7 linked regions of the Homo sapiens genome follow. The protein of the gene in region 1 purifies or fractionates together with the protein of each later gene. This does not show direct contact. Each region holds a gene or a part of one and is shown on either strand. Other genes may lie near its edges.

Evidence for each region.
Region 2: the proteins of LIN28B (region 1) and PTCD1 purify together in Homo sapiens (affinity purification with mass spectrometry; 2 studies listed by BioGRID and IntAct, with this or other methods). This does not show direct contact.
Region 3: the proteins of LIN28B (region 1) and KRR1 purify together in Homo sapiens (affinity purification with mass spectrometry; 2 studies listed by BioGRID and IntAct, with this or other methods). This does not show direct contact.
Region 4: the proteins of LIN28B (region 1) and PHAX purify together in Homo sapiens (affinity purification with mass spectrometry; 2 studies listed by BioGRID and IntAct, with this or other methods). This does not show direct contact.
Region 5: the proteins of LIN28B (region 1) and TUT7 purify together in Homo sapiens (co-immunoprecipitation; 2 studies listed by BioGRID and IntAct, with this or other methods). This does not show direct contact.
Region 6: the proteins of LIN28B (region 1) and KRI1 purify together in Homo sapiens (co-immunoprecipitation; 2 studies listed by BioGRID and IntAct, with this or other methods). This does not show direct contact.
Region 7: the proteins of LIN28B (region 1) and PURA purify together in Homo sapiens (affinity purification with mass spectrometry; 2 studies listed by BioGRID and IntAct, with this or other methods). This does not show direct contact.

Annotation. Positions count from the first base shown.
Region 1 is NC_000006.12:105,078,619-105,081,834, forward strand, and holds part of LIN28B (protein lin-28 homolog B), read left to right. Parts: coding exon 1-165; 3' UTR 166-3,216. UniProt on the Homo sapiens protein: Suppressor of microRNA (miRNA) biogenesis, including that of let-7 and possibly of miR107, miR-143 and miR-200c.
Region 2 is NC_000007.14:99,428,379-99,432,731, reverse strand, and holds part of PTCD1 (pentatricopeptide repeat-containing protein 1, mitochondrial), read left to right. Parts: intron 1-2,925; coding exon 2,926-3,144; intron 3,145-3,527; coding exon 3,528-3,629; intron 3,630-4,353. Other genes in the region: ATP5MF-PTCD1 (ATP5J2-PTCD1 fusion protein), read left to right, coding at 2,926-3,144, 3,528-3,629. UniProt on the Homo sapiens protein: Mitochondrial protein implicated in negative regulation of leucine tRNA levels, as well as negative regulation of mitochondria-encoded proteins and COX activity. Also affects the 3'-processing of mitochondrial tRNAs.
Region 3 is NC_000012.12:75,494,361-75,498,713, reverse strand, and holds part of KRR1 (KRR1 small subunit processome component homolog), read left to right. Parts: coding exon of another isoform or gene 1-20; 3' UTR 21-3,051; coding exon of another isoform or gene 3,052-3,137; 3' UTR 3,138-4,353. Other genes in the region: GLIPR1 (glioma pathogenesis-related protein 1 precursor), read right to left, coding at 1-20, 3,052-3,137. UniProt on the Homo sapiens protein: Part of the small subunit (SSU) processome, first precursor of the small eukaryotic ribosomal subunit.
Region 4 is NC_000005.10:126,610,600-126,614,952, forward strand, and holds part of PHAX (phosphorylated adapter RNA export protein), read left to right. Parts: intron 1-4,353. UniProt on the Homo sapiens protein: A phosphoprotein adapter involved in the XPO1-mediated U snRNA export from the nucleus.
Region 5 is NC_000009.12:86,316,151-86,320,503, reverse strand, and holds part of TUT7 (terminal uridylyltransferase 7), read left to right. Parts: intron 1-833; coding exon 834-920; intron 921-1,445; coding exon 1,446-1,546; intron 1,547-3,227; coding exon 3,228-3,285; intron 3,286-4,353. UniProt on the Homo sapiens protein: Uridylyltransferase that mediates the terminal uridylation of mRNAs with short (less than 25 nucleotides) poly(A) tails, hence facilitating global mRNA decay. Essential for both oocyte maturation and fertility.
Region 6 is NC_000019.10:10,558,958-10,563,310, reverse strand, and holds part of KRI1 (protein KRI1 homolog), read left to right. Parts: intron 1-473; coding exon 474-582; intron 583-1,465; coding exon 1,466-1,520; intron 1,521-1,594; coding exon 1,595-1,644; intron 1,645-2,045; coding exon 2,046-2,142; intron 2,143-2,230; coding exon 2,231-2,308; intron 2,309-2,862; coding exon 2,863-2,999; intron 3,000-3,374; coding exon 3,375-3,501; intron 3,502-3,602; coding exon 3,603-3,698; intron 3,699-3,781; coding exon 3,782-3,952; intron 3,953-4,353.
Region 7 is NC_000005.10:140,120,446-140,124,798, forward strand, and holds part of PURA (transcriptional activator protein Pur-alpha), read left to right. Parts: 3' UTR 1-4,353. UniProt on the Homo sapiens protein: This is a probable transcription activator that specifically binds the purine-rich single strand of the PUR element located upstream of the MYC gene. May play a role in the initiation of DNA replication and in recombination.

The sequences.
Region 1 (3,216 bases):
GGCGGGCATGGCTGTACATCACCACCGTTTCCTCAGGAGGCTAGGGCAGAGATCTCAGAACGGTCAGGCAGGTCACCTCAAGAAGCTTCCTCCACGAAGTCATCTATAGCACCAGAAGAGCAAAGCAAAAAGGGGCCTTCAGTTCAAAAAAGGAAAAAGACATAACAGGTCTTCTTCATATGTTCTTTCCTTTACCCGGTTGCAAAGTCTACCTCATGCAAGTATAGGGGAACAGTATTTCACAAGCAGTAGCTGACCTGGGATTTTAACTACTATTGGGGAACTGTGAATTTTTTAAACAGACAAATCACTCTAAGCAAATTACATTTGAGCAGGGTGTCATGTTTTATGTTAATTCAGAGAATAAGATACTATGTCTGTCAATATGTGCATGTGTGAGAGGGAGAGAGCCTGAGTCTGTGTGTGTACATGAGGATTTTTATATAGGAATGTAGACACATATATAAAGAGGCTTTGTCTTTATATATTTGTGTATAGATCAAAGCACACACCCTCTCTCATATAATTGGATATTTCCAAGAATTGAAAACCCATGTGAAGCATTATAGATAGTTTTAAATTTAACCCACTGGAGTTTTCTTGAAATACCACTTCTTTTATATTATATAAAACTAAAAACACGACTGTTACCTTTTGTGTGAACCAAAGGATACTTCAGATCTCAGAGCTGCCAATTATGGGGTACTAAAGGTTTTTAAGACATCCAGTTCTCCCGAATTTGGGATTGCCTCTTTTTCTTGAAATCTCTGGAGTAGTAATTTTTTTCCCCCTTTTTTGAAGGCAGTACCTTAACTTCATATGCCTCTGACTGCCATAAGCTTTTTTGATTCTGGGATAACATAACTCCAGAAAAGACAATGAATGTGTAATTTGGGCCGATATTTCACTGTTTTAAATTCTGTGTTTAATTGTAAAATTAGATGCCTATTAAGAGAAATGAAGGGGAGGATCATCTTAGTGGCTTGTTTTCAGTAGTATTTTAATATCAGCTTCTTGTAACCTTTTCCATGTTGTGAGGGTTGTAAGGGATTGTGTGGCAACAGCAGCTTCCCTTGGCTAACTCAATCTTCTACCCATTGCTTAGAGCAGGGAGCCCTCCTTATTTACTACTGAAGACCTTAGAGAACTCCAATTGTTTGGCATATATTTTTGGTGGTGGTTTTTATTCCTCCTGGAGAGTTATCTAATTTGTTTCTAAAACAAACAAGCAGCAAAGAAATGAATTAAATACTGGGGTTGAGAATTAAAATTAAGTGGATGTTCACAGTTGCCCAATATATATGACCTGCAAATGATACGAAAAAGTGCAGCATTTAGTGGCAGTTAACAAGAGTGACAAGCCTGGGGCAGAGGTACCAAACCTCTCCCACCAGAGAGCTAGAAGTATTTTATACAGTAACTTTGATCTTATGGAAGTGACCTTCAATGCTTATTCTGAAGTAACCTATATGGTGGATACAGGATGAACATTCAGTGCCAGGGAGAATCTTCTCAGGTTGGTTCTCGTTAGAGTGATAAACTGGCTAGGGGCCATAGTATTGGTCCTGTTAGGTTTCGGTCATGGAAAAAAAAATTATTTTGGGGTCATCCTGGCTCTAGATGTTATGGGCAAATTTCTGAAACATCTGCAAGAAGGTACCAGTTAATTATAGTGCTTAATATTGGGAATAAGATTAAGCATTATAATTATAATGTATGGGCCTGTTGGTGTAAGCTCAGATAATTAAATAAAAATAGCATGACTCAAATGAGACATATTCTGCTGAACAGTTTCTACTTCCTCTCCCGCCTGTCCTGTCATGGGAGACGTGTATAGTTGCTGCTGTTTCAGCAAACCACCATAAGACGAAAATGCCTCAGGTTGGGTTGCCAGTCCTTTACAACTCAGCTTGAATTTCACAACAGTGATTGTGAGAATCTGCGTGGTATACACTGAAATATCGGTGTGCTGTGATGCAAAGCTTACCTTTGACGATATTGAATGTGATATAGCTGTAGAGAAGTACTTCCTTGCCTTATGTGAGGATTTCAAACTTATTTAAATTATGTAGACAAATCAAAGTGGCATTGCTTAATTTTTAGCAGGCATAATAAGCAAGTTAACAGTAAAATGCAAAACATGATAAGCGTTGCTCAATTTTTAGCAGGTATAATAAGCAGGTTAACAGTAAAAATGCAAAACATGATAGATAAGTCACTTTGAAAATTCAAACCAAAGTTCCTTCACCTTATGGAAATAGGAAATTATGGACTTCAAAATTGGACACTTCCTGTTTACAAAAAGAAATTCAGAGCTAAAATCATGGTAAAAAAAAATAGAAACACTTGAGAACTATGGTCTTTATGGGTGCAATTTGAAATCCTTTTCATCATCTTACCAGACTAAACTAAGAGCACATACCAAACCTATCTTATGGTTGAAAGTTGGGGTTTATTTTTTATATGAGAATATTATCACTATTACATAACATACTCAGGACAAAGAACTTTGCTCAGGGAACATACCATGTAATATTTTTGTTGTTTCTTTACAGACTAGTCTACAGTCCTGCTTACTCAAAACAAACCAAATAACTTATACCTTTATATAAGTATTATGTACTGATGATAGTAACTACCTCTGAGTTTGACACAGATCAAAATTTTTGAATATCAGATATCAGTTATCCTATTTTTATTTCATGTGAAAACTCCTCTAAAGCAGATTCCCTCAACTCTGTGCATATGTGAATATCACTGATGTGAACACATTGTTCATTTACATAGGTAAAATATTACTCTGTTTACAGCAAAAGGCTACCTCATAGTTGATACATAGCACACCTGTATGTATGCTGTTCCAGCCTTACAGGTGGCTGATAATTCTCTGGTACAGAACCTTTTTATCTGTATTATAAATAGCAATTCACAACTGCATGTTTCTGACAAACACTTGTGAATAATGAAGCATCTCGTTTTAGTTAGCAAAGTCTCCAAACATTTCCTTAAAATAATCATGTATTTAGTTTAAAGAATTATGGGCACTGTTCAACTTAAGCAAAACAGAACACGGAAGCAGTCTTAGAAGCACCACTTTGCCCAGAGGTGGAGGTTGGAAGGGGTAGCAGGGAGAGGGGTTGGTGTATGCAGGTATTCATGCTAGGCAAAGAGTTTAAAAGACGCCAATGTCCTTCATTTACTGTCTGTGCTGCCCTG
Region 2 (4,353 bases), on another chromosome or scaffold:
CGTCAGGTGGGACGAGAGACTGAGAAAAGAAATAAGACACAGAGACAAAGTATAGAGAAAGAACAGTGGTCCCCTGGGACCGGTGCTCAGCATACGCTCAGCATCCCGCATACGGAGGACCTGCGCATACGGAGGACCTGCGCTGCGCAGGCACTGGTCTCTTGAGTTCCCTCAGTATTTATTGATCACTATCTCTACCATCTCGGAGAGGGGGATGTGGCAGGACGATAGGGTAATGGGGAGAGGGTCAGCAGGAAAATATGTGAGCAAAGGTCTCTGTGTCATAAATAAGTTTAAGGAAGGGTGCTGTGCTTTGATGTGCACCTACACAACATCTCGTGCATCAAAGAGCAGTATTGTCTCCAGCAGGTCCCACCTCCAGCCCTGAGGCGGTTTTCGCCTATCTCAGTAAATAGAACACACAATCTGGTTTTACACCCAAGACATTCCATTCCCAGGGACGAGCAGGAGACAGATGCCTTCCTCTTATCTCAACTGCAAAGAGGCCTTCCTCTTTCACTAACCCTCCTCAGCACAGACCCTTTATGGGCGTCGGGCTGGGGGACAGGCTGGGAGACAGTCAGGTCTTTCCCTTCCCACGAGGCCATATCTCAGGCTATCACATGGGGAGAAACCTTGGACAATACCTGGCTTTCCTGGGCAGAGGTCCCTGCGGCCTTCCGCAGTGTATTGTGTCCCTGGGTACTCGAGATTGGAGAATGGCGATGACTTTTATCAAGCCTACTGCCTTCAAGCACTTTTTTAACAAAGCACACCCTGCACAGCCCTAAATCCATTAAACCTTGAGTCAACACAGCTCATGTCTCTGCAAGCACAGGGTTGGGGCTAGGGTTACAGTTTAACAGCATCTCAAGGCAGAAGAATTTCTCTTAGTACAGAACAAAATGGAGTTTCTTGTGTCTACTTCTTTCTACATAGACACAGTAACAGTCTGATCTCTCTTTCTTTTTCCTACAGTCCTTTTTTTTTGGAGACAGAGTCTCGCTCTGTCGCCCAGGCTGGAGTGCAGTGGTGCGACCTCGGCTCACTGGAACCTCCGCCTCCTGGGCTCGAGCAGTTCTCATACCTCAGCCTCCCGAGTAGCTGGGACTACAGGCGCACATGCCACCATGCCTGGCTCATTTTGTTTGTATTTTTAGTAGAGACAGCATTTCACCATGTTGGCCAGGCTGGTCTCTTGACCTCAAGTGGTCCACCCGCCTTGGCCTCCCAAAGTGCTAGAATTACAGGCGTGAGCCACCGCACCCAGCCCATTACATCTATTTTAAAAAACTATTATTTTTGGCCAGGTGCGGTGGCTCACACCTGTAATCCCACCATTTTGGGAGCCCAAAGTGGGCGGATCACGAGGTCAAGAGATTGAGACCATCCTGGCCAACATGGTGAAACCCTGTCTCTACTAAAAATACAAAATTTAGCTGGGCGTGGTGGCACGTACCTGTAGTCCCAGCTACTCAGGAGGCTGAGGCAAGGGAATCACTTGAACCCAGGAAGTGGAGGGAGGTCGTAGTGAGCCGAGATCACGCCACTGCACTCTAGCCTGGCGACAGAGTAAGACTCCATCTCAAAAAAAAAGAAAAAAAACTAATATTTTTATTGTTTTTATTTATTTTATTTTATTTATTTATTTTTTTGAGACGGGAGTTTTGGCTCTGTCACCCTGGCTGGAGTGCAGTGGTGCGACCTCGGCTCAATGCAACCTCCACCTCCCAGGTTCAAGCAATTCTCCTGCCTCAGCCTCCCGAGTAGCTGGGATTAAAGGCGCCCACCACCATGCCTGGCTAATTTTTTTGTGTTTTTTGTAGAAGACGGGGTTTCGCCATGTTGGCCAGGCTGGTCTCGAACTCCTGACCTCAGGTGATCTGCCCACCTCAGCCTTCCAAAGTGCTGGGATTATAGGCGTGAGCCACGGCACCCAGCCTTGTTACTGTTTTTGGTGACTCACCTGCAGTGTGTCTCCCTTCTTGAGTGTAAGCTCAGTAAGGATAGGCTGTGCCCGCTCTGCTAACCCCAGGGCTGCTGCTGGGCAGGTAGTGAGTTGTCAGTGCACCTCTGTGGAGTGCAGCAATACACGCAGAGCTTACATCATCCTCAAAGTAGGGACTGCCCTCTTTGCTTTTCAGATAAGGAAACTGAGGCACAGAGAGATGAAGGGACATGTCCAAGGCCACCCCACTTGAATGCACCGGGGCTGGGATTTGAGCCCCAGATGGCCTGACTCTAGCAGGGTTCTTTCTGCCGCTGAGCTGCCTATCGCCTGCCTTTGTCCAGATGGCCCTTCTCTGGCCAATAGCGAGTGCTAGGCTTCACCACGGATTGTCAACCCTGAGCACATGCCTTAGTCCCCTGGAGGCTCAGTAAGCTGAGTGTCACTCAGCTCCGGGGCTTGTGACTTACCAGATCAGGTGGCCCTGAGAATGTGCATTGTGCCACTGGTTCGGGGCCACCCCTAGAGCACTGCAGTGCATCCTCCCACTTGCCACAGGCATGCCTGGTTTCAAGGTGATGGTGTCATCCCCATTTTCGCGAGGAAGTGCTAACTTGCCCGGGAGCCCTCAGGTAGTAAGCACTACAGGCCCTTTCCCCTTGACGGGGTGGCCTGAAGGTGGGGACATCAGGAAGACCTTGCTGCCAGGACCCCAGGCCTGGAGTGGGCTGACAAGTGCCCAGGGCAGGGTAGCTCCTGTTTGGTACATCTGGGTGTGTGGGCTCAGTTTTCAGAGTCCCTTCAATGTGTCTGAGTTTGGAGAGCTGGGCTCTGATGTGTCCATGGCTCTGCCTTAGAGCCTGGCCTGGTGGATGCAGTGACGGGGTCCTCTCCAGCCTCAGCCTCCTCTGGGGCAGCTGCTCACCTGTGCGTCCAGCTGATCCCGGGCCACCACTGAGCTTCTTCCATCTCCACAGATGAAAAAGCGGGACCTGGAGCCCTCGGACGCCACCTACACGGCCCTGTTCAACGTCTGTGCCGAGTCCCCCTGGAAGGACTCAGCTCTACAGAGCGCCCTGAAGCTCCGGCAGCAGCTGCAGGCCAAAAACTTCGAGCTCAACTTGAAAACATACCACGCGCTGCTGAAGATGGCTGCCAAGTGCGCAGACCTTAGGATGTGCCTCGATGTGTTCAAGGTGGGGCTTCCCCTGCCGTCCTGCTCCCCTTCATGGGGCTGGTCCCACGTGTCAGGGGCAGGGCTGTGGTGTCTGTCTCTCCTCATGTAGGAAGGCTTAGGGAGGATGAGACAGCCGGTATTGGGCCCTGGGGTTCACAGATGGATCTGATGAGACCTTACTGGAGATTGTGTATGCCACCGTGTGCTGTGTCCTGCTTTGTGCACTCGAGGGAAGGCTTCCTAGAGACAGGGTCTTGCTATGTTGCCCAGGCTGGTCACAAAACTCCTGGCCTCAAGTGATCATCCTGCCTTGGCCTCCCAATGTGCCAGGATTACAGACATGAGCTACCATGCCCAGCCTGCTGCAGGTTCTCAGTGGGACGTCTTTGTTCCCTCCCCCAGGAAATCATCCACAAAGGGCACGTGGTCACAGAGGAGACCTTCAGTTTCCTGCTCATGGGCTGCATCCAAGACAAGAAGACAGGCTTCCGGTACGCCCTCCAGGTATGTCCCTCCCACCCCACCTTCCTGCCCTGCTTCCCCGGTGCCAGAGGTGCAAAATGGTGATCCTGTGAGCACCCACGATGGCCCTGTGCTGAGTATTTTTATATCTGTGCTCTTTTCTGAAAACCCAGCAGCCACTGTAGCCTCCATTCTACAGATGGCAGGGAGAGGAGGCCCTTGGAGATGGAATGAGGGTGGCCCCCGCCCCTCCCACCCTGCTTTGCAGTCGGCTTAGCCCCTCTAAACTCACCTTCCTTGAAAGCCTGCCACACACTCACCTGGGGACTTGTTCAACCCTCCCACACCCCCATTAGCACTTCTGCAGGTGCAACCCAGGAGTCATTCATTCATTCATTCATTCATTTATTTTGAGATGGAGTCTCACTCTTGCCCAGGCTGGAGTGAGCGATCTTGGCTCACTGCAACCTCCGCCTCCCAGGTTCACGCGATACTCCTGCCTCAGCCTCCCGAGTAGTTGAGATTACAGGCGCCCGCCACCACGCCCAGCTAATTTTGTATTTTTAGTAGAGACGGGGTTTCACCATGTTGACCAGGCTGGTCTTGAACTCCTGGCCTCATGTGATCTGCCCGCCTGGGCCTCCCAAAGTGCTGGGATTACAGGTGTGAACCACAGCTCCCCGCTGGAGAGCTTTTTTTTTCTTTTTCTTTTTAATGTTTTTAATTTTTTTTTTTTTTTTTTGAGATGGAGTCTTGCTCTGTCGCC
Region 3 (4,353 bases), on another chromosome or scaffold:
TTGGTCTCGCTGTCGGTTAACTGTAAAGTTAGGGGGAAGAAAGAAAAAAAATTAAAAGGGTAGACACAGTTGAGAGTTTTATTTTAAAAAGCTAAGTCTTATAATTATGACCATTAACTTGCTTTGGCTTTATTGCAGTGACTTTCCAAGTTTAATTATTCAAAACTTTTTGAACTGACTGAATTAACTTGGTATTTTTAAGTTGACTTTTTACATAAACTTTATAAACCTTTTATAAAAAGGAAACTATACCATTACTATAAATGGAAAATCATTTTACACATCATACCTAGCAGGTAATAAAATTTAAAAAATAAAAATTAAATATTAGAATGTGAGAAATTTATTAAAATATAGTTCTAAAAATAAGTTTCTTCCTGAGAAGAATGATACTGTTTATGATGAATCCATAGTGAAAAGACAGTGACCTCTCTTTCATCCAGTCTAGTATATCACTAAATCATCATTACGATGTTTGGCTATCAAGTCATTAATTACTGTCCTCCTTTCACTGAGCTTTATTCAAATTTTGACAATCAGAGCACTGGGAAGAAATAAATTCCACAACTGCCTTTAGCCTTCTGGATACTTTCTTTTATAAAATAGAAACCTTTTCCACACCAGTTCTGCAGCAGTCGCTATTAGATGCTCGTGGTAGAACCCATCAATCATCTGGTCCTCTGGGTACTGGTGAGCATCCCTGGTCTTCATACCTGTGAGTGGGCTTTGTGGTGAATTACTGTAAATATGCTACCCTCACTTTTCTTGGCAGTTATGTCGATGAAATCAAGAGTGTGATGTTCTAGTTATTTTTTTTTATATATATTTTTAAATGTTCAATATTCAACTATTGAAACAAATGTACATCTGTGAACTAGCTAAAATCATCTTATGTACCACTAATATGCCCAGCACATTTTGTAAAACAGTCCTGATTTGGCCTCCAAGGGTATTTATTGAACTACCAGCAGTATCTAGGAGACCACGAAGGAATACCACGAAGGAATTTATGCTCCAGTGCTTGCCATAATTTGTCTGAGAAGGAATCTGTTAAATAAAAGCTTTTATCCTCTAACCTTTACCTTCATCAGACCTTATAAAAGGTCAAATGGTGATTCTTAAGTTTTTTAGTCACAAATCTTACTTATTCAGTATTAGTGCGAAGAGTAGAATACTTTCAAGTAAGCCTAAACTTACATGAAAACAAATTACATAAATCTAGCTCTGAGAATAGGAAATTAGTGACAAGATCAATCTGTAAGATGTTGAGCACTTATCTGAAGTAAATGGGTAATGAGTTTCACATCTTATAAATACAAGTTAGCATGTGTTTTCTCAAGAGTCCAAGGGTTTTCATTATTGGACTACAGCTTTAATCTTCTAAATGTTATTCCCCAAGATTAAAGAGCATCTCAAGTTAGATCACCAAAGATCAAAAGCTAAAACCAGAAGTATTTTTGTCATTGTGGTGGTGGTAGTGTTACTAATTGCCTAGATTTTTAAAGGGAAACATTTTTTTCACTGGGTTGTTTCGTTGAAAAAAATAGAAGCAGAAACTTGCCCAAAGTCACAGTGGTCAAACTGGAAATTGCACCAAAACTTGGCATACTGGTTCTGAAATCCATAGTTTTAGCCCTTATGTATACTGGTTAATTTGGAAGGAAGAAATATATACGTTCTGAAGTGAAGAGTGAGTGAAAGGAAGAATTCAGTGAATACATTGATACCTTGATATTATCTGCATTGTGGCTACATGTTACTTTTCTTCACAAGAGTGATATAAGTGAAATAAAGAATGATTGGACTGGGAGAAAAATGGCTCAGAAAACTTTGCAAAAGTACGACTGTATGTAAAGATAAGTATTCAACATTAAATGGGAAGGAGGAGAGCAAGCAGTTTAATATATAGAATTTTATAATTTTAGGCCTGCAAGGGACCTTATAAAACATGAGCAATGGAACACTTTTTTCCAAACTAAATTTCGTGCAGTGGAACTTGGCCGACTCTGTCCTTCCTCTATTCTAAGCACCCTACTCTAGCCCGGCTGCTCTGAGTTCAGTTTGTTACAAATATGGACACGAAAGTACCACAGGCTTTGCACAGCTTAATTGAAGTTTCCCCTTCACACCATGGTAAAAAAACATACTGGGATGGAAGGGTTTGTGTCTAGAACAAGAACAAGAAATAAACTCTTGGTCACTTACTAATATTTCAAAATCACAAAGCAGAATTTTGCTTGGATGTTTAGTAAAACATCCTTGGAAATTTAACTGCTTGCAGCTTCTACACTTCTTCATTAAATGCTGTCTGGCTAATAAAAAGTGCCATGTTGCAGCTTTATTTTATTTTCATTTTTTGGAGATAGACCCTCACTGTGTCACCCAGGCTGGAGTGCAGTGGTACAATCTCTGCTCACTGCAACCTCCACCTCCTGGGCTCAAGTGATTGTCCTGCCTCAGCCTCCTGAGTAGCTGGGGTTACGGGCGTCCACCACCACACCCAGCTAGTTTTTGTATTTTTAGTAGAGGGGGTTTTTGCCATGTTGGCCAGGCTGGGCATGGTGGCATGGTAATCTCAGCTACTTGGGAGGCTGAGGCAGGAGGATCGCCTGAACCCGTGAGATGGAGGTTGCAGTGAGCTGAGATCACACCACTGCACTCTAGCATGGGTGACAGAGCAAGACTCTGTCTCAAAAAAAAAAAACAAAAAAAAAAACGAAAACAGAATTCTGTTTGTTTGGATGACCTGTTATACTTATTTTTGATCTTGCTGAAATAAGCAAATCTTAGGAATCTTAGTCTACAGTTTCTGACAGTTTTTTTTGTTGTTGTTGTTTGACCAATTAGAACTAAATAAAAAGAACGTGATTTTCACATTTAAATTTCTCTTAAATGTATTCCTAGAACAGTAAGCCATTGGTTTAATTGCTACTTGATGCCAGTTTCCTTGAAGATAGCCGTTAAGATAAAACATGGTTTCATTGTTAATTCTGTAGAAAGTTACATGTTACTATTATGTTATTCTATTGGTGTATTGTTCCTTTTACTCACCACAGAGATTGTCCAAACACTTGTCATTATTGGGGCAGGCACTGCAGGTGGCTCCTCTCTTATATGGCCAAGTTGGGTAATTCCCTCTGTAAAGCAGAAGAAGGATGTCCATTAGAAGTTTTTCGGTTTTTTAAAATTGCAATTTACTATGAATCCTTAACTAAATCCAGAAGAATAGTGGAGTGAAGTACAAAGGTCCAGAGAGTTGGTAATAGAAGTGAAGACAGGAAGGCAGAAATGGAAGGCTGCTAATATTTGCATAGTTCATTCTATGTACCTGTGTCTATGCACCTGTTTTAATCTGCATCCCATTTAATTGTGACAGCTCTGAGAGGAAGTTATTCTTGTTTTACAGATGAGACAAAAGATGTAAGAGATACCTTTAATCACAATTTATACACTTCAGAGTCAGAGGAAACCTGGATTTAACTCCAGGGCTGTGCTCCCTCTCTTTACCTACCCTCTGGCCTATATGATTACTGCCATTTAAAAAACTGTCCATCTTAGAAAAGCTATGGTGACCCACATTCAATATTCTCAGTTGGTCAGCCCTCCATAATTTTCACTGGATAGGAGCCATTTGGCTGGTGCCTTCCAAAAAAATAATAAATAATGGTATGGGGGAATTTCTAAAGTACAAATTGTTTTCACATACAAGATGTGATATGAATAATAGCTGCTAATTAGTGAGCACTACCATGTGCTTGTCTTTGTTCTAAACAACCTTGAATGAAATAATCTTCACAAAAACCCTATGAGGAAGTTACTGTTGTCTATTTATACCCATTATATAGCTAGAGGCTGAGTCACAGAGTATAAGTAATTGACCAAGGTCACAGACTAGAAAGTGAAATAATATCCAAGCATTTTATATCCCCATAAATATCCTCATAGTAGTAATGGGGAGAGGGGGCACATTTATCTCAATGAACCTGCCATTGCACTAATTTTTTTTGGAACTCTGCTTTTGGAAAAAGTTCTAAACTTTTTTGTGTAATCGTACCCTTTGGCAGTCTGGTGAGGCCTATGGGCTCTTTCTCAACATAGTTTGTTGTTAAATGCATAAAATACATAGGATTATAAAGGAAACCAATTAAATTGAAATAGTTATCAAAATGTTTAAAACAAGATTTGTGATAAAGTAATATGTGCTTCTCTATTAAGATCTACCGGGGGCTATTAGTTTCAATGCAGTGATGAACACAAACTATATTTTGAGTTCTCTGCAGCAAGTGGAATGTGGTATGAAAATATCTGATATTTACAAAGATGATACTGCTAAGTCAGAGTCACGTTTATTGC
Region 4 (4,353 bases), on another chromosome or scaffold:
ACAGATTTCATCAATATTTTAGTACTGTAGTGATAAAACTTTATATTCCAGTGAGCTAATGCAGATTTACTGAATATTGGGAAGATGCAAGTTCAAATTTACTTTCTTATTTTATTTTATTTTTTGAGACACAGTCTGGCTCTCTTGCCCAGGCTGGAGTACAGTGGCGCGATCTCAGCTCACTGTATCCTCCACCTCCCAGGCTCAAGCCATCCCCCACCTCAGCCTTCTGAGTAGCTGGGATTGCAGGTGCGTGCCACCGCGCTTGGCTAATTTTTTGTGTTTTTAGTAGAGATGGAGTTTTACCATGTTGCCCAGGCTGGTTTTGAACTTGTGAGCTCAAGGAATCTGCCCACCTCGGTCTCCCAAAGTACTGGGATTACAGGTGTGAGCCACTATGTCCAGCCCCCAAATTTACTTTCTTTTTTTTTTTGTTTTTTTTCTTTTCGTTTGTTTGTTTGTTTGTTTGTTTTGAGATGTAGTTTTGCTCTTGTTGCCCAGGCTGGAGTCCAATGGCGCAATCTTGGCTCACCACAACCTCTGCCTCCCGGGTTCAAGCGATTCTCCTGCCTCAGCCTCCCAAGTAGCTGGGATTACAGGCATGCGCCACCACCCCGGCTAATTTTGTATTTTTAATAGAGACAGGGTTTCTCCATGTTGAGCAGGCTGGTCTCAAACTCCTGACCTCAGGTGATCTGCCGGCCTCGGCCTCCCAAAGTGCTGGGATTACAGGCGTGAGGCACCACGCCCGGCCTCCAAATTTACTTTCTTTGGATACATTATTTCCTTGAATTCAGTGCTTTCTACGTGCCAGGCACTGTTCTAGAGGAGGGAGCTTATGTTGTGGTTGGGGGAAAGGAAGACAGTCTATAAACAATAAATATAACTTCAAGTATGTTAAAAAGTGATACATTGACCAGATGCACCTGTAATCCCAGCACTTTGGGGGGCCAAGGAGGGTAGATTGCTTGAGTACAGGAGTTCGAGACCAGCCTGGGCAACATGGTGAAATCCTGTTCTACAAAAAATATGTATACATATATTAGCCAGGCTTGGTGGCACATGTGTTTAGTCCCAACTACCTAGGAGGCTGAGGTGGGAGGATCACTTGAACCTGGGAGGTCAAGGCTGCAGTGAACTGTAATCGTGCCACTGCGCTCCAGCTTGGGTGACAGAGCGAGACCCTGTCTCGAAAAAAAAAAAAAAGTGATACATCCTATGGGAAAAGAAAGAAATCAGATGGAGCTATAGGGAATAGTAGCAGAGAGGAGGACGTTGCAGTTAAACTAGAGTGGTCTGGGTAGATGTTATTAAGAAGGTGCAATTTGAACAAAGACTTGAGGTGAAGCAATGAATACTGCAGGAAGAATAGACCAAGCAGAAGTAACAGCTATTGTAGAAGTGAAGGGTGCCCAGCAAGGCCAGAACTAGCATGAAGTGAGCAGTTTACTTGCTTTAGGTTCAAAATTTGACAGTGCCTTAAAAACTCAATAATCAAAATAAATAATATTTGAATGTACCAGTTCAAAAATCAAAATTAATGCAAAAAATCCATAATGGACAAAATTTTAAAGATAGGCTCTTACCCTGTACTTGGCAAGACTGCTCTCTCCACCCTAATCTCTACCTAGTTCCTGTCTCAACAAGGGGCCAATGTGGCAGGAGCAGAGTGCATGAGAGAGTGAGTAGGATATAAGGTCAGAGAGATAATTGGGCCAGGTCTAGTGGGAACTTGTTTGCCATCTTAAGGAATTTTCCTTTTACTTTAAATGAAATGGCCCATAGAGGGTTTTGAACAGATAAGAAATGCATTTCCTAGGCCGGGCGTGGTGGCTCACACCTGTAATCCCACCACTTTGGGAGACCGAGGTGGGCGGATCACCTGAGGTCAGGAGTTGAGACCAGCCTGACTAATGTGGAGAAACCCCATCTCTATTAAAAATACACAAAAATTAGCCAGGTATGGTGGTGTATGCCTGTAATCCCAGCTACTCAGGAGGCTGAGGCAGGAGAATCGTTTGAACCCGGGAGGTGGAGGTTGCCATGAGCCGGGATTGCGCCATTGGACTCCAGCCTGGGCAACAAGAGCGAAACTCGGTCTCAAAAAAGAAAAAGAAATGCATTTCCTTTCCGCTGCTGTTTTGAGAATAGACTGAACTGGGGAATAAGATTAGATGCAGGAAAAGCCTTTCCAATGGGTCTGACCAGCATGGTAGCAGTGGGGTGAAGGAAAAGTGGTCAGATTCTGGGTATATGTGGAAGATACGGCCAACAGAATTTCCTAGTGGATTAGATGGAGGATGTAAGAAAAGGAAGAGTCAAAGATGACTCCAAGGTTTTTAGCCAGTTTGAAGAGCAATATCCAAAAATTCACATTGGCTTCAAAGTCTCAAAAGTCTATTTAACATGAACATGGAAGGGTATGTATAATGGATTGTTTAATGAAAAGACAGATTAGAAACCAATTGGCCAGGCGCAGTGCCTCATGCCTGTAATCCCAGCATTTTGGGAGGCTGAGACGGGCATATCACCTGAGGTCAGGCGTTCGAGACCAGCCTGTCCAACATGGTGAAACCCCGTCTCTGCTAAAAATACAAAAATTAGCCGGGTGTGGTGGCATGTGCCTGTAATCACAGGTGCTCGGGAGGCTGAGGCAGGAGAATTGCTTGAACCTGGGAGGTGGAGGTTGCAGTGAGCAGAGATTGTGCCACTGCACTCCATCCTGGGCAACAAGAACATGACTCTGTCTCAAAAATAAATAAACAAGCCAATTTATATGACAGAATCCCATTTGGGGTTGGAGTTACAAATATATGTGGCATATAAAAAAGTAAAAAGATGTCCAGGTGTGGTGGCTCACACGTGTGTAATCCTGAGACCAGCCTGGGTGACATGGTGAAACCTTATCTCTACCAAAAAAATACAAAAATTAGCTGTATGTTGTGGCACATGCTTGTAGTCCCAGCTACTTGGGAGGCTAAGGAGGTGGGAGGATCCCTTGAGCCCAGAAGGTCGAGCTGCAGTGAGGCATGATCACACCACCTCACTTCAGCCTGGGTGAAGAGCGAGACTGTGTCAGAAAAAAGTAAAAAGATTATATGTGTCAAAATGTTACAGTGATTACCTATGGTTAGTAGGATCATGGGTGGTTTTTTTCTTTTCTTTTTCTTTCTTTCTTTTTTTTTTTCCTTTTTGATACAGGGTCTCACTCTGTCATCCAGGCTGGAGTACAGTGGCACAATCGCAGGTCACTGCAGCCTCGACCTCCCTGGCTCAAGCAGTCCTTCCACTTCAGTCTCCCAAGTAGCTGGGACTATAGGCTTAAGCCACAATGCCCAGCTAATTTTTGTATTTTTTGTAGAGACAGGGTTTCACCATGTTGCCCAGGCTGGTCTCAAACTCCTGGGCACTCAAGCAATCCATCTGCCTCTAGGATTACAGGTGTGAGCCATTGTACCCCGCCTATTTTTTCTTTTAACCGCATGTTTTTGCTACTTTTTCTGCAATTAACATATATTTGAGACAGTCTTGCTCTGTCACCCAGGGTGGAGTACAGTGTTGCCATCTCAGCTCACTGCAACCTCTGCCTCCCAGATTCAAACAATTCTCCTGCCCTCAGCCTTCTGAGTAACTGGGATTACAGGCATATCCCACCATGTCCAGCTAATTTTGTATTTTTATTAGAAACAGGGTTTCACCATGTTGGCCAGGCTGGTCTCAAACTCCTGACCTCAAGTGATCCACCCGTCTCGGCCTCCCAAAGTGTTGGGTATAATACCCAACACCCAACCCGTGAGTCACCGCACCCGGCCACAAGTGTGTATATGTACCTATTTCCTTATTTTTAAAAATTCAGTTATTTGAATAGGCAACCAGTTCACATGGTAAAACAAGAAAGAGTATCAAGGGCTAAAGGGAGGAGGCTAAGGGAAATTTATGTGTACAGAGTTTCAGATTTGCAAGATGAAACAGTTTTGGAGATCTGTTTTATAACCGTGTAAATATACTTTACTACTGAACTGTACACTTAAAAATTGTGAAGATGACAAAATTTTTTTGTCATGTCTTTATTATCACAATAAAAAATCAGTAAAAGAGTGTGTAGTGAGAGGCTACCCGGACCACACCTATCCTTGAGCCACCCAGACTCCTCTCCAACACCCATTATTTTTTTTGAGATGGAGTCTCGCTCTGTCACCCAGGCTAGAGTGCAGTGGTGCGATCTCGGCTTACTGCAACCTCTGCCTCCCGGGTTCAAGCGATTCTCCTGCCTCAGCCTCCGAAGTAGCTGGGATTACAGGCACACACCACCACGCCCAGCTAATTTTTATATTTTTAATAGAAACAAGGTTT
Region 5 (4,353 bases), on another chromosome or scaffold:
TAAAATTTGAACATAGAATAATTTTTGAGTAACGCTAATTAATAGCCTACTTAACAGCCCTTTAAGGAACACAAATTTGGGGAAGCATTGGTGTAGAGAGCCTTAAAGTTTTACAAAAGAAAATATTTAAAGGATAGATGTTCAGCTGCTTAAAATGAAGGAACTTGTTTCACATGGCTTCATCATAAGGTGTTCATCCGTGTCAGAAGACACGTGTTCTTAACAAGTCCTTTTTTTTTTTTTTTTGGGAAATTTTTTTTTTTTATATTATGAGCTATTAAAAAAACTAGGTTCTCCTTAGGGAAAAAAATACATGCAAATGCTCACAAACTTTTAAATTCACACTTTAGCGGGGTGGTGATTTCTGAAGGCCCTTTCTGTAACCCTGGTGTCTTTCAGGAAACCCAGGTGGAGATCCCATGTTTAAATTACTTTCCGTTTCAAGAGCACTTCTTAGATTCTTTAAAAAAGGACATCTTAAATTTTACATTACTGTTACAAAAATTAGCCAGGCATGGTGGTACATGCCTATAGTCCCAGCTACTCGGGAGGCTGAGGTGGGAAGATGGCTTGAGCCTGGGAGGCAGAGGTTGCAGTAAGCTAAGATCACACTACTGCACTGCAGCCTGGCCGACAGAACCAGACCTTATCTCAAAAATAAATAAAAAACAAACTTTACCTTGTTAATGCTATCTACTGAGAAGACACAATGATTTAGGAATTTTTAAATTTAAGCTTGTAAGTTTTATTTTCTAAAAAATAAATTTTTTTCAGCTTTTTCTAAGAGTGTCAACCGGCTTATTTTGTCAATATGTCTATTTATTTTTAAACAGAGGATTTTTCTCCAACAATTATAGAAGATCAGGCTCGTGAACATATTCGGCAAAACCTAGAAAGTTTCATAAGACAGGACTTTCCAGGTAAATGATTTATTTTTTATTTTTAAGAAAAGTAGTGTAACCTTTTTTCCAAATCAGTTCATGTGTTACAAGCACACTGATTTTGAGAATCAGGATTTCCATTGTTTTGCAATATACCCAGGATGGTCCTTGGTCTGCCAAATCCTCATTTACCAACAGAAACAGTGTAGGGTTTATTCTAGCAAGTGCCATAAGTGAATTTCATTTAATACTATGTTTAGAGTCAAAGTTAAGCTTACATTATTAAATGTGTTGAGGTGATCTAACATTTTCCTTGAAATGTCTTTGCATTTAAGAATAAAGGAGCACCTGGTAATCTTTCTTGCCATATACAGCTTGTATGTAAAGGAAGCTTTGAGAGAAAAAGACTTTAGCATAAATGACCAGTTAATCAGAGAACATAAGTATGAGATTAATATAGGATAATTAAACAACTGGGTGTTTTTGATTCATGAGAGGGCCATTTTGATCAAAAATTAAATGTACTCAGGTAATTAGTTATTACTTTTCATATATCCCTAACAGGAACTAAATTGAGCCTGTTTGGCTCCTCCAAAAATGGATTTGGGTTCAAACAGAGTGACCTTGACGTCTGTATGACAATTAATGGACTTGAAACTGCTGAGGTACAGTGACCACATAAAACTTCCATTTGCTGTGGCAGTGTGATTTAACCAATCTAGACTGGCATTACAGCTTGGTATTTTCCAAATTTATCAGGGCATACCATATAGAGTGTGCTGTTTGGCACAGTCTCTGGCCAAATACATTAAGAGGCTTGGAAAGGTTGTGAGGAATGTGAGGAGCAGAAAGGTTATACTTTCACTCTGTAGCAAAAAGTGGATTGGAAAGTGTTGCCTGGGAATTCTACATAGCCAAACCAGCCTCTTCAGTGTCCCATTGGCTTGGCTACTATGCTGACTTGGATCACACACTCACATAAGGTTACCTGTAAAGTTTGTTACCAGACAGGCAGTGTGGTAAATCATAAGAGTACTAACCTTAGAGTCCAGAGGCCTGGATTTGAGACAAACTTGTTTCATCAGTACCTAAACATGTGGTCTTTGGTAAATAATCGATAAAGTATAATATCTGTTCCTCCTGCCTCCGCTGATTTTTGTACACATTATCATGGATCATGTGGGTCAGGAGTTAGCAAACGATGGCCCTTGGGCAATTCAGCCCCCCACTGCCTGTTTTTGTAAATAAAGTTTTATTGGGACAGAATCACACCCATTCACATATGTAATGTCTATGGCTGCCTTCACTCTTAAGTACAGAGTTTAGTAGTTGTAAGAGACCATATGGCGTGCAAAGCAAAACAAACTTGCCAGCCCCTGGGATATCTGAAGGCATTTATAAAATATAAAACACTATATAAAGGTATAAAGTCTAGGAAGTGCTGAGTCCCTATTCTTTTAAATCCTTAACAGCAGTCCAAATGCTAAATATCCAAATGAATGATGCTGCTGTTGCTGAAGACCTTTTTGTACCTTTTCTTAGTTTCAAGTCTTTCTATTTTGAGGATGTATCTGATTTGGGAAAATAGTCAAAAGTGATCTAGCCTGAATTTGAATAAAGTATATAAGCAAGATTGGCTCAACATATGGAATGACCCTATCATACATCCTCAAGGTTTATTTATTTATTTATTTTTTTACATGGCTTATAAACTAGTTTTGAGGGCATTTCTAAAGTAACATTCCACGTATGTTCTGGGATTTTTATAACCATCAAAAAGGCGTATGTTGAGTCAGCCCAAATGTTTTTAAGAATGATTTATCAAATACTATTTATATTTGCTGTATGACTTTAGTTATATGCATTATAATTCTGGCTAGTCCTATAGGGAAATAATTTGAGCTTAATCACTCTCCACAGCAATTCATCAACTCTTAAACTATAGAAGGTCTGCTTAGAATGAATGAGCTGGGGCACAGAAGCCTCCTCTCATTTATTCTGGGACATGGGGTACATCCGAGTGATATTATGTGGAGGGGAAGAAATGAAGGTCCTCAACCATGGTTCAGAGACTTTTTTGGAAGCCCTAGGTCCATAAGCTTCCTGACTGATTTTAGCCTTTGTTGCACACCCAAAAACAATTAGGAAGTAGGGTATTTAGTGGTTTTTGTACCGTCAGGATATTTCCTGTGAATACTGACTCTAATACCCAACTAGAAAGGAAAAAAATAGATATAGACTGACTTGAAATTAATTACATTATTTCTGAAGGTAATGGAAACTATAGCCAGTTTCAGAACCTGTCTTCCAGTTTTGGTTAAGTTCTTTATGCCTTCTTTGTTGTAGGGATTGGACTGTGTCAGAACTATTGAAGAATTAGCAAGAGTCCTCAGAAAACATTCAGGTACCTCTGTAAACTTTTTCTAAAAATATTTCTGACTTTTTAATTAGTGTTTTCTATAGTCTTCCCTTGGTATCCATGGGGTATTTGTTCCAGGCCCACCCATCACCCCTCAACCCTCCCTTCCCCAGCAGATAAAAAAAATCCTTAGATGCTCAAGTTCCTTATATAAAATGGCATAGTATTTACATATAACCTATATGCATCCTTCCATATAGTTTTAGTCATCTCTAGGTTACTTATAATACCTAATACAGTGTAAATACTATGTAAATAGTTGTTATACTGTATTTTTTATTTGTATTTTTTTATTGTTGTATCGTTAGTTTTTTATTAGTTGCTTTTTTCTCTTAAATATTTTTGGTTTGTGTTTGATTGGATATGGGGATGCAGGACCCACAGACATGAAAGGCCAATTGTATTTAGAGTTTATTAATGCCATGAAGCAGTATAGTGGCTCATTCATAGAATAATTGCAATATTAATGTCTTTTTAAAATCTTGTATGCGTAAGTATGAAAGACTGAGGAATTGGTGATAATTTATATGCATATTGTTGCCTAGCTCAGTTTTATTTCAAGACAAAGCCTACGCCAGACAGGCAAGAAAGGCTATAAATCCTTTTCCTTTGTTGGCGTTGTATAAGTCAAAGTGTAGGAGTTGCTAATTGTGTGAAGTGTCAAGGAAAGCACCCCGGACTGGGCTTGTGGGTTGAATTTGCAGCTGTTCTGCTCAACAAGCTGTATATGACCCTGAACAAGTCCTTCACTTGAAGCGATCTCTTTTTTTAAGAAATGGGATCTTGCTAGGTTGTCCAGGCTAGTCTCTGAACTCCTGGGCTCAAGTGCCTTGGCCTCCCAAAGCACTGGGATTACAGGTGTGAGCCACTACGCTTGGCCTGATCTCTTTTTTTCATTGATAAATTGAGGCAACTGGACTGGATAATTATTCTAGAGTATTTACAGCTATAAAATGTATAGATTTTGTAAACCATGCACAGAATTGAAATGCTGTTAACGTATCCTTTTGTTGTCATGGCAGCTATGGATACCATTAACAGTGAAAAATCTTC
Region 6 (4,353 bases), on another chromosome or scaffold:
GCCGATGCAGGCAAATCACCTGAGGTCAGGAGTTCGAGACCAACCTGACCAACATGGAGAAACCCCATCTCTACTAAAAATATAAAAATTAGCCGGGCGCGGTGGTGGGCACCTGTAATCCCAGCTGCTTGGGAGGCTGAGACATGAGAACAGCTTGAACCCGGGAGGCAGAGGTTGCAGTGAGCCGAGATCATGCCATTGCACTCCAGCCTGGGCAACAGAATGAGACTCCACCTCAAAAAAAAATAAGTAAATAAATAATAACAACAATAATAATAATCAAAGCAGGAATTACTGACTGAATGACCCCAACCCCACCAGATGGTGACAAGCACAATACTCTTGGACAGCTGGGAATTGGTGGATTTGGGATTTGAATCCTCTGTCTAACCCTGGCCCTGCCCTGTGGGATTCTCTGCCACGGCAAAGAAGGGGGTTGTGGGTGATGGCAGGTGTCTTTGGTGGGTTAACAGCATCGTCATCAGACAGTGAGGAGGACCCAGAAGCCTTGGAGAAGCAGAAGAAAGTGCGGCCCATGTACCTGAAGGACTACGAGAGGAAGGTTATCTTGGAGAAGGCAGGGTATGGAGAAGGCCTACATCCCCACCCCCTGGTTCCCAGCCCTGTCAGGTCTATGGGGGTCTTAGGGGCAGGAGAGGGAAAAAAGCTGGCAGCCTGGGCCGGGCATGGTGGCTCATGCCCATAATCCCAGCACTTTGGTAGGCTGAGGCAATAGGATCGCTTGAGGACAGAAGTTTGAGACCAGGCTGGGCAACATACCCCGCCTCTACAAAAAAATTAAAAATTAGCTGGGCATGATGATGTGTACCTGTAGTCCCAGCTACTCAGGAGGCTGAGGCAGGAGGATTGAGCCAGGAGATGGAGGCTGCAGTGAGCTATGATCAGGCCACTGCACTCCAGCCTGGGCAACAGAATAAGACCCTGTCTCAAAAAGAAAAAAGGCCGGGCATGGTGGCTCATGCCTGTAATACCAGCACCTTGGGAGGCTGAGGCGGGCAGATCACCTGAGGTCAAGAGTTTGAGACCACCCTGGCCAACATGGTGAAACCCCGTCTCTACTAAAAATACAAAAATTAGCCAGATGTGGTGGTGGGCGCCTGTAGTCCCAGCTACGTGGGGAGGCTGAGGCAGGAGAATCGCTTGAATCTGGGAGGTGGAGGTTGCAGTTTTCCGAGATCATGCCACTGCCCTCCAGCCTGAGGGATAGAGCGAGACCCTGGCTCCAAAAAAGAAATGCTGTCACCCATGATTGGAAAAGAAAAAAAAAAAAAAAACGCTGGAAACTCACCAGAATCGCAGATAGCCCTGAGAGCAGGAGTCTCAGTGATTCCATAGCCCTCCGATGACCCCCGCCAGCTGTTGCTTGGAATAGCTGCTCCGCATGGGCATGGGGACAGGCGGGCCCTGGAAGATATATTCTGAAGACCCCACTTTTCCTTTACAGCAAATATGTTGATGAGGAGAACTCAGACGGGGAGACTTCCAATCACAGACTCCAGGTGGGTGGGGTGAAGGCTGGGTCGGGGGGCTGAGGGGCCTGGGGCTGGCCTGAGACCTATGGCCCTCTCTGCAGGAGACATCGTCGCAAAGTTATGTGGAGGAACAGAAACAGCTCAAGGAAAGGTGAGGCTGGGTGGGCGGGAATGGCCCAATGGAGGAAAGTTGAGGCTCGGGGGTTGGATAGGCACGGGTTCAAATTGAGCTCTGTCACTTTCTATGTGCTTCAGTTTCCTCATCAGTTAAACGGGGTTAATAACATCACAGCACTGCTCTGAGCTTGTTGAGAGGAGAGCTCAGGGCTTAGTAAATGGGGTTAATCTTGGGGCAGCCAGCCAGGTGAGGTGGCTCATGCCTGTAATCTCAGGGCTTTGGTGGGCAGAGGAGGGAGGATCACTTGAGCCCAGGAGTTCAAGATCAGCCTGGGCAACATAGTGAGACCCCAGCTCTACAAAATAAAATAAATACTGGGGCAGCAGACAGGGGCCAGCCTGCCTGTCCTGAGGCTTGTTTTCTCTCGTGGGCAGCTTCCGGGCATTTGTGGAGGACAGTGAGGACGAGGACGGCGCTGGGGAGGGCGGCTCCAGTTTGCTGCAGAAACGTGCCAAAACCAGGCAGGAGAAGGTGGGTACTGGGGCCTGACTGGACTGCTGGGGGACAGGGTGGCGGGTGGCTGGGCATCTGCGGATGCTCAGTGCTAGCTTTCCCCCAGGCCCAGGAGGAGGCCGACTACATCGAGTGGCTGAAGGGACAGAAAGAGATTCGGAACCCAGATTCCCTGAAGGAACTGGTGAGTTCTCACGCATGGTCGCTGATGGAGTAGACCGCGTGTTCCGCGTCCATCCAACCTATTTACAGAAAGTAACCCTCTGAAGATGGGATATGTACATCTCTGGGCCTCAGCTCCTACATCTCTTTAAATGGGGATAGGCTGGGTGCCGTGGTTCACACCTGTAATCCCAGTGCTTTGGGTGGTCAAGGCAGGAGGATTGCTTGAGGCCAGGAGTTTGAGACTGGCCTGGGCAACATAGCAAAATGGCTCTACAAAAAAATGAAAAAATTAGCCAGGCATGGTGGCATGCACCTGTAGTCTCAAATACTTGGGAGGCTAAGGTGGGAGGATCTTGTGAGCCCGGGAGGTTGGGTCTGCAGTGAGCTATGATCACACGACTGTACTGTCACCTGGATGGCAGAGTAAGACCCTGTCTCGAAATAAAAATAAGAAACCAAAATGGGGCTAATGTCACCTACTCCAGAGGCTGGCTGTGAGGTCCATGTGGTGAGCATGCCTGCCCTCCTTCCCTGTCCTCCATTGACCAGAGTCCTGTCTCCTGTCACCCCCAGACGCATCTCAAGGAATACTGGAACGACCCTGAGTTGGATGAAGGGGAGCGGTTCCTGCGGGATTACATCCTCAACAAACGCTATGAGGAGGAGGAAGAGGAGGAGGAAGATGAAGAGGAAATGGAGGAAGAGGAGGGGTGAGCCACTGCATCTCCCCAGGACCTAGATTTTGGGTGCGCTTCATGAAGTATTCCCAGGCGGCACTGGCCAGGAGGCAGAGGGCACCATGTGTGTATTTTTTTCACAGATGGTGGCAGAGTTAGTCTTCTGTAAGGCAGAGCCACAGAGTATAGGCTCTGGAGCCAGGTGGCACTGCCTCAAATCCTGGTTCGGCTTCAAGACTTTCATGCCTCAGTTTCCCCATCTGTAAAATGAGGACAATAGCAGCGTGCACCTTGTAGGGTTCTTGTGAGGATTAAATGAGTTCATACGCTTCGTACCCAGGCGTGCAGGAAAGGGGGGCTCGACCTCACTTGGCTGGCCCCCTGGCATCACCACATCTTGCCCCTCAGGGTCCACGGTCCCCCAGTCCAGCTGGCTGTGGACGACTCCTCAGACGAAGGGGAGCTGTTTCTGAAGAAACAGGAGGACTTTGAACAGAAGTACAATTTCCGTTTCGAGGAGCCGGACTCAGCATCGGTGTGTGGCTGGGGCTGGGGAGGACTCAGCCCCCAGGGTTCAGGCCCAGGGAACCCCACATCATCTCTGCGGCCCTTGTGGGCTTTTCTGATTGCGCCTAGGTCAAGACCTACCCACGCAGCATCGCGTCCTCCGTGCGCCGTAAGGATGAGCGCAGAAAGGAGAAGAGGGAAGAGACTCGGGAGCGAAAGAAGAGGGTGAGTGTGGGGGGTGAGCTGGGGAGGACCCCCCAGCCCTGGAGGAAAGCCCATGCCCTCCCCCTCTCTGCCTGGGCCTGCAGGAGAAAGCAAAGAAGCAGGAAGAGCTCAAGCAGCTGAAGAACCTGAAGAGGAAGGAGATTCTGGCCAAGCTGGAGAAGCTGCGGAAAGTAACAGGCAACGAGATGCTGGGCCTCGAGGAGGGGGACCTTGAAGACGACTTCGACCCTGCCCAGCACGACCAGCTCATGCAGGTGCGGCCCTCATCCCGGCCCAACATGACGCTGAGTTCACACAAACATGGCTCTCACTGGCCACGGTGGCTCACGCCTGTAATCCCAGCACTTTGGGAGGCTAAGGCAGGCAGATCACCTGAGGTCAGGAGTTCGAGATCAGCCTGGCCAACATGGTAAAACCTCATCTCTACTAAAAATACAAAAATTAGCCAGGTGTGGTGGTGTATGCTTGTAATCTCAGCTACTTGAGAGGCTGAGGCAGGAGAATTGCTTGAACCCGGGAGGCAGAGGTTGCAGTAAGCCGAGATCATGCCACTGCATTCCAGCCTGGGCGACAGAGGGAGCCTCTGTTTTAAAAAAAAAAAAAGACCTGGCCGGGTGCAGTGGCTCACACCTGTAATCCCAGCACTTTGGGAGGC
Region 7 (4,353 bases), on another chromosome or scaffold:
TAAAACTAAAGTGATCACTGCTATTCACGAATTATTATAGAATCTTCTTTGCAGATTTTGTGATATATTAAGAAAAGCTGATTTTAATATTAATATTTAAGAAGTTATTTGATCCTGAAAACCTAAATTTAAGGTATAGGCCATTTGACACGTCCTTTTTGAACAGAAATTTCATTACAGGCTAAGTGAAAATAAGCCAGAATTAGCATGAGTCAGGTAGAATTTCATGATAAAAGAACAACCAGATGAAATAAGAAATAATGATTGGTTTCAAGCCAATGAATCTGCTAAGCTAACTACCAAGTTTTGATGTTGAATGGTCCAGGCAATTTATGTCTTTAGGAAAGCTGAGTGTGGCAAAGGTCACTTGTTAACATTTTTCTTAACAAGAATGTCATAACTACTCATTCATTTTTATTTTGTCCCCACGTTTGGTATTTGTTTTGTTTTGTGTTTTTCCTTCCTGATGTCCTTTGCTTTTGTGGAAGATTGTCCTGTTGATAGGCAGAAACATGGTGGTGATCCTCTATGTAAAATATAGTTGCTTCTTACACATCAGAAGTATTTCACTCATTTTGGAATCACAGGATTTTCATGTTTTCATAAATACACACATTGTTTTGATAATTATTAGCAATTAGCTTATTTTGTAGCATTAGATGGAAAAATGTTTAAGCTAAAGAGTTTAATTTTCTTGATTTTGGTTCCACTTTAATAATTCAAGAGGCCTCCAAGTTCAAGGACCAAGTCCTTCTATTTTAGAATTGTGAAAAACATGGAAATACTCTTGTTAGTGTGTGTTTTGGTCTAAGGTAGATTATTAACACAGAAGGATCCTAGGAGGATTTAAGAAAATATGTCCTTATCGTGAAGTGGCAGTTAAAGTTATGGGACAGGTGAATTACCTATTCATCTTGACTAGCTCAAACAATGATAGCCATCAGCTAATGACTTATCAGACACATGTTGAGTTTGGGTCAAACTCCCATTCAGCTGGAGTGGATTGGCAATTTTAAATGCAGGTAGTTGGTGGTGGTACTTGACCTACCTCCTTACCATGTACATCTGGCATCTTCTCTCTCCTATCCTTTTTCTTTGTTTCTCTCTCCACTTTTACTCTTGCTGTAGGCCTACCAGTGGCACTCAAGCTTACTTCTTCAGAGAGAAGTAAAGAAATTTCTGACTCCTGCCTTAGAACATAGCTAACTGATGATCCAGAACAATTTCAGTATTATGAGGTAACTGGGCAGTTTTTTTCTGATTGCTATTTTCCCCATAGTCTTAAGCTGGCAGTTTGAAGGTATCTAAATTAATGTTAAGAAACTTGTGAACTGAAGAGAGTAAGAAGTATGTGTATTTTAGGTAAGTTACTGGGAACTGAGACTTACTGGTTTGGAAATTGGAGAGTAGGACGAGGAGAGCTGTTTAATGTGTTTGTGGATGGGGGTTTGAGAGGTATATAGAGAATGGTTTGGAAATAAAGTGAGAGGAATTTTTACTAGAGGTAGGAAAAGGTACTATGATGGAGTCCGAATGAGAGTTATTTGCTAAGGAAATGAAGTTGATCTTCACTAAGGAAGTTTCAATAAAGCCAGAGAAAATGGGTCCCTCATTGATTATGAGAAAGCTGTTAGTTACTATAGCTAGAGTTATGATAATGATCATGCATTATACAAGTCTGTTTTCATGTATAGGATGTCTGCTTTTCTGGGACAAATTAGCACAATTGTGGAATGACAGCTTTTCTGGTCAAGGCAAGTGGATGCTGGGGAGTTATTATTTTGAGGAAAAGAAAATTTCAAGCTTTTCACCATTATTCTTTTTAAACTATCAGAAATATTTATCACACATACTATCTATTTTCTTGGGCTCTTGTTACAATGTAGTTTACCTTTACTTTTCAAATGGTCCTTAGATCAAATTATTTGATTTTGTACTCCACAAAGACACATATTATTCCTTGCTTTTATAGAATTTTGAGACTTTGGCCCACACAAATTTCTTAGAAGACAATAAACCAGGTAAAAACACTAACTTGCAATTTTAGGTGTCTTTTTTATTTCTTTTACATTTGCATCCGTAGCAACCATTTAACCTTGTAGACCTTATGAGGCCCTCAATAATACTGTATTTCTAAAATTAGACAACATACCCCCCAAACTCATGTTTCTGTTTCCCTACTTTCTCTCTTACTTTAAAATTGTAGTATTCCCAAGAGTTCAGTGGTGGCAAATGTTAATAAAATAAGTTAGTACATTTTGGAGGTTCTTATATCCTTTGTAGGGTAAGCTGATAGTGTTTAGATTTCTGTTCCCATTATTCCAGTAGTGTTTTAAATTATTTAAGATAAATAATTACTGTAATGTTTGTTTTTAAGTTACATAATTCAAGTATGTTTGGATTAACTCTTTGTTGTCAAATTTAGTATGGATTTATTCCTGGTGATTTGGACAGATTACTTTGAAGTTTCATTTTACTCACATCTCTATATATTAGTGATAAAAATCTCTTTTAAAAATAGCAAAAAAGTGGTTCTGATTTTGTACTTTGAAGGTAATTTTTCTTTTTTACGAATGTCAGGTTCATTAACAATAGCAGGATTATTTTTACTATAGCTTATTTTGTAGAGTTGGCACTTTAGTATAATTTTCACATTTTATTGTGTCAGATTTTAAATTATAATAGTTATATACTATAACTCATTTAAGTCAATGCAAAGCCTTCTTAAATAGCCCCTCCCTTAGAAATTTGTTTAAAAAGAAGTGAATTCCCAAACCTGTGTCAAGAACTTGTGATTTAAATGACTGTGAGACAAGTCCTTGAAAGGCTTAAGTCTAGTCAGTGGAGATAAATGATAGCCCATTTCCATGCTGCATATAGTTGTTAGGGTTTATAAAGTTGTCAATGTGTAAAAGTGCAAAAGCAGGAAAGACTAAAGTTGCCTGTAAAATTTCTAGTTTTCATTATTTGCACTATTTATCTTTGCACTTGATTTTTTGAAAGTTAAGGCTAGTCACTTTCACTTTTGTTTCTAGTCTTTTCTAATTTCTTGCAGAATTGTGTTTTCAATATTCCACCCAAAGCAAAAATTATATGCAATTAAAAATATTTTATAAGGCCAAGAAAATATTTCTTAATGTTAGCTGTATAAAACAAAAATTTGTTCTGATAAAATTTTTAATATGGGCCTTTATTTGCCAATAAAATCCTTTGTAAATGTGAGCTTTATTAAACTGTTTAAATAGACAAAGTTAAAGCTTAGGATAGGGAATATATATGTATGTGTATATGAAATGATGTCTTCGAGTTTTAACTTCCAGCCTGAGATGGCCTAGATTTGGTGTGTTAGTTTGTTTCACTGAAGTCAGTGAGATAGGAGTCTAGCTGGGTACATGCTTAAAAAGCTGGAAGTGAAGTGGGTGGCAAGTGGCAGCTCCCTCTTTCATGTAGTTTTCCATAATGTTCATATAGTTTCCTTATGGTCTAAGTGTTACAACTGGTTTTCAAGTTGTTATATTGAATATTCCTTTTTGGAATTCAGGGTTGAATCACTTTGAGGGGGAAGGGAAGCAAGGGCAAGAGACTTTATTTTAACCAGATGCGGTCTTATGACCTCAAAGATGTGCTCTAGAAAGAAAATAACAAAAAGTGTACCTGTGAACATATTTTTTGTCTTGGTGATATTATGCAACACAGTGTTCAGAATTGCAAAAAAATTTAAAAATTGATAGTTTTATCAATGGAACAGAGAGATGTGTTTTTGGCTAAAATTATTTTTTGTAAGTTATTTGGTTATTTCATTTTATATTCCCTTTCCCATAGCTTTGTACACACCTCATACTTAAAACCAAGTGAGAGGCCTCTTTTCAGATCTGGTTTATTTTTGGAATGCCTGAGTGTGTTTCCAGATTGGGGGGGGAGAGGTGGTGTTTTACTTTTTGACATGCTCTTAGCATGTTTTGCTAGTCATTCTGGATCTTATGTTTGCAAATTCTGTTGAACATTCAGTGATGTATTTGAAATGAGAAAGTCCTTTATAACATAGTGTGAATGTTTGTGGCCAATTCAATTGTGGAATCTTATGGCTTTGTTTTTACTTTGGGTAGAAGTTTAACTTCCATTGTTCAGATTTTAGGTTTATCTAGTGAAATTGTGCCAGGTAGTTGTCTAAATATGGACCAATTTTGGGAAATGAAGATTAATAAGTGTATATTTGATTCTAGATAATCCTTTACTCAAAATCATAAGTTAAAGATTCACATCATTAAGAGTTATCTAACTTTTATGTTGTCAAATCTTTAAATGTGGATGATATTCAGCATTCTATCTATGAATTTCCTTTAGGAAAAGAGA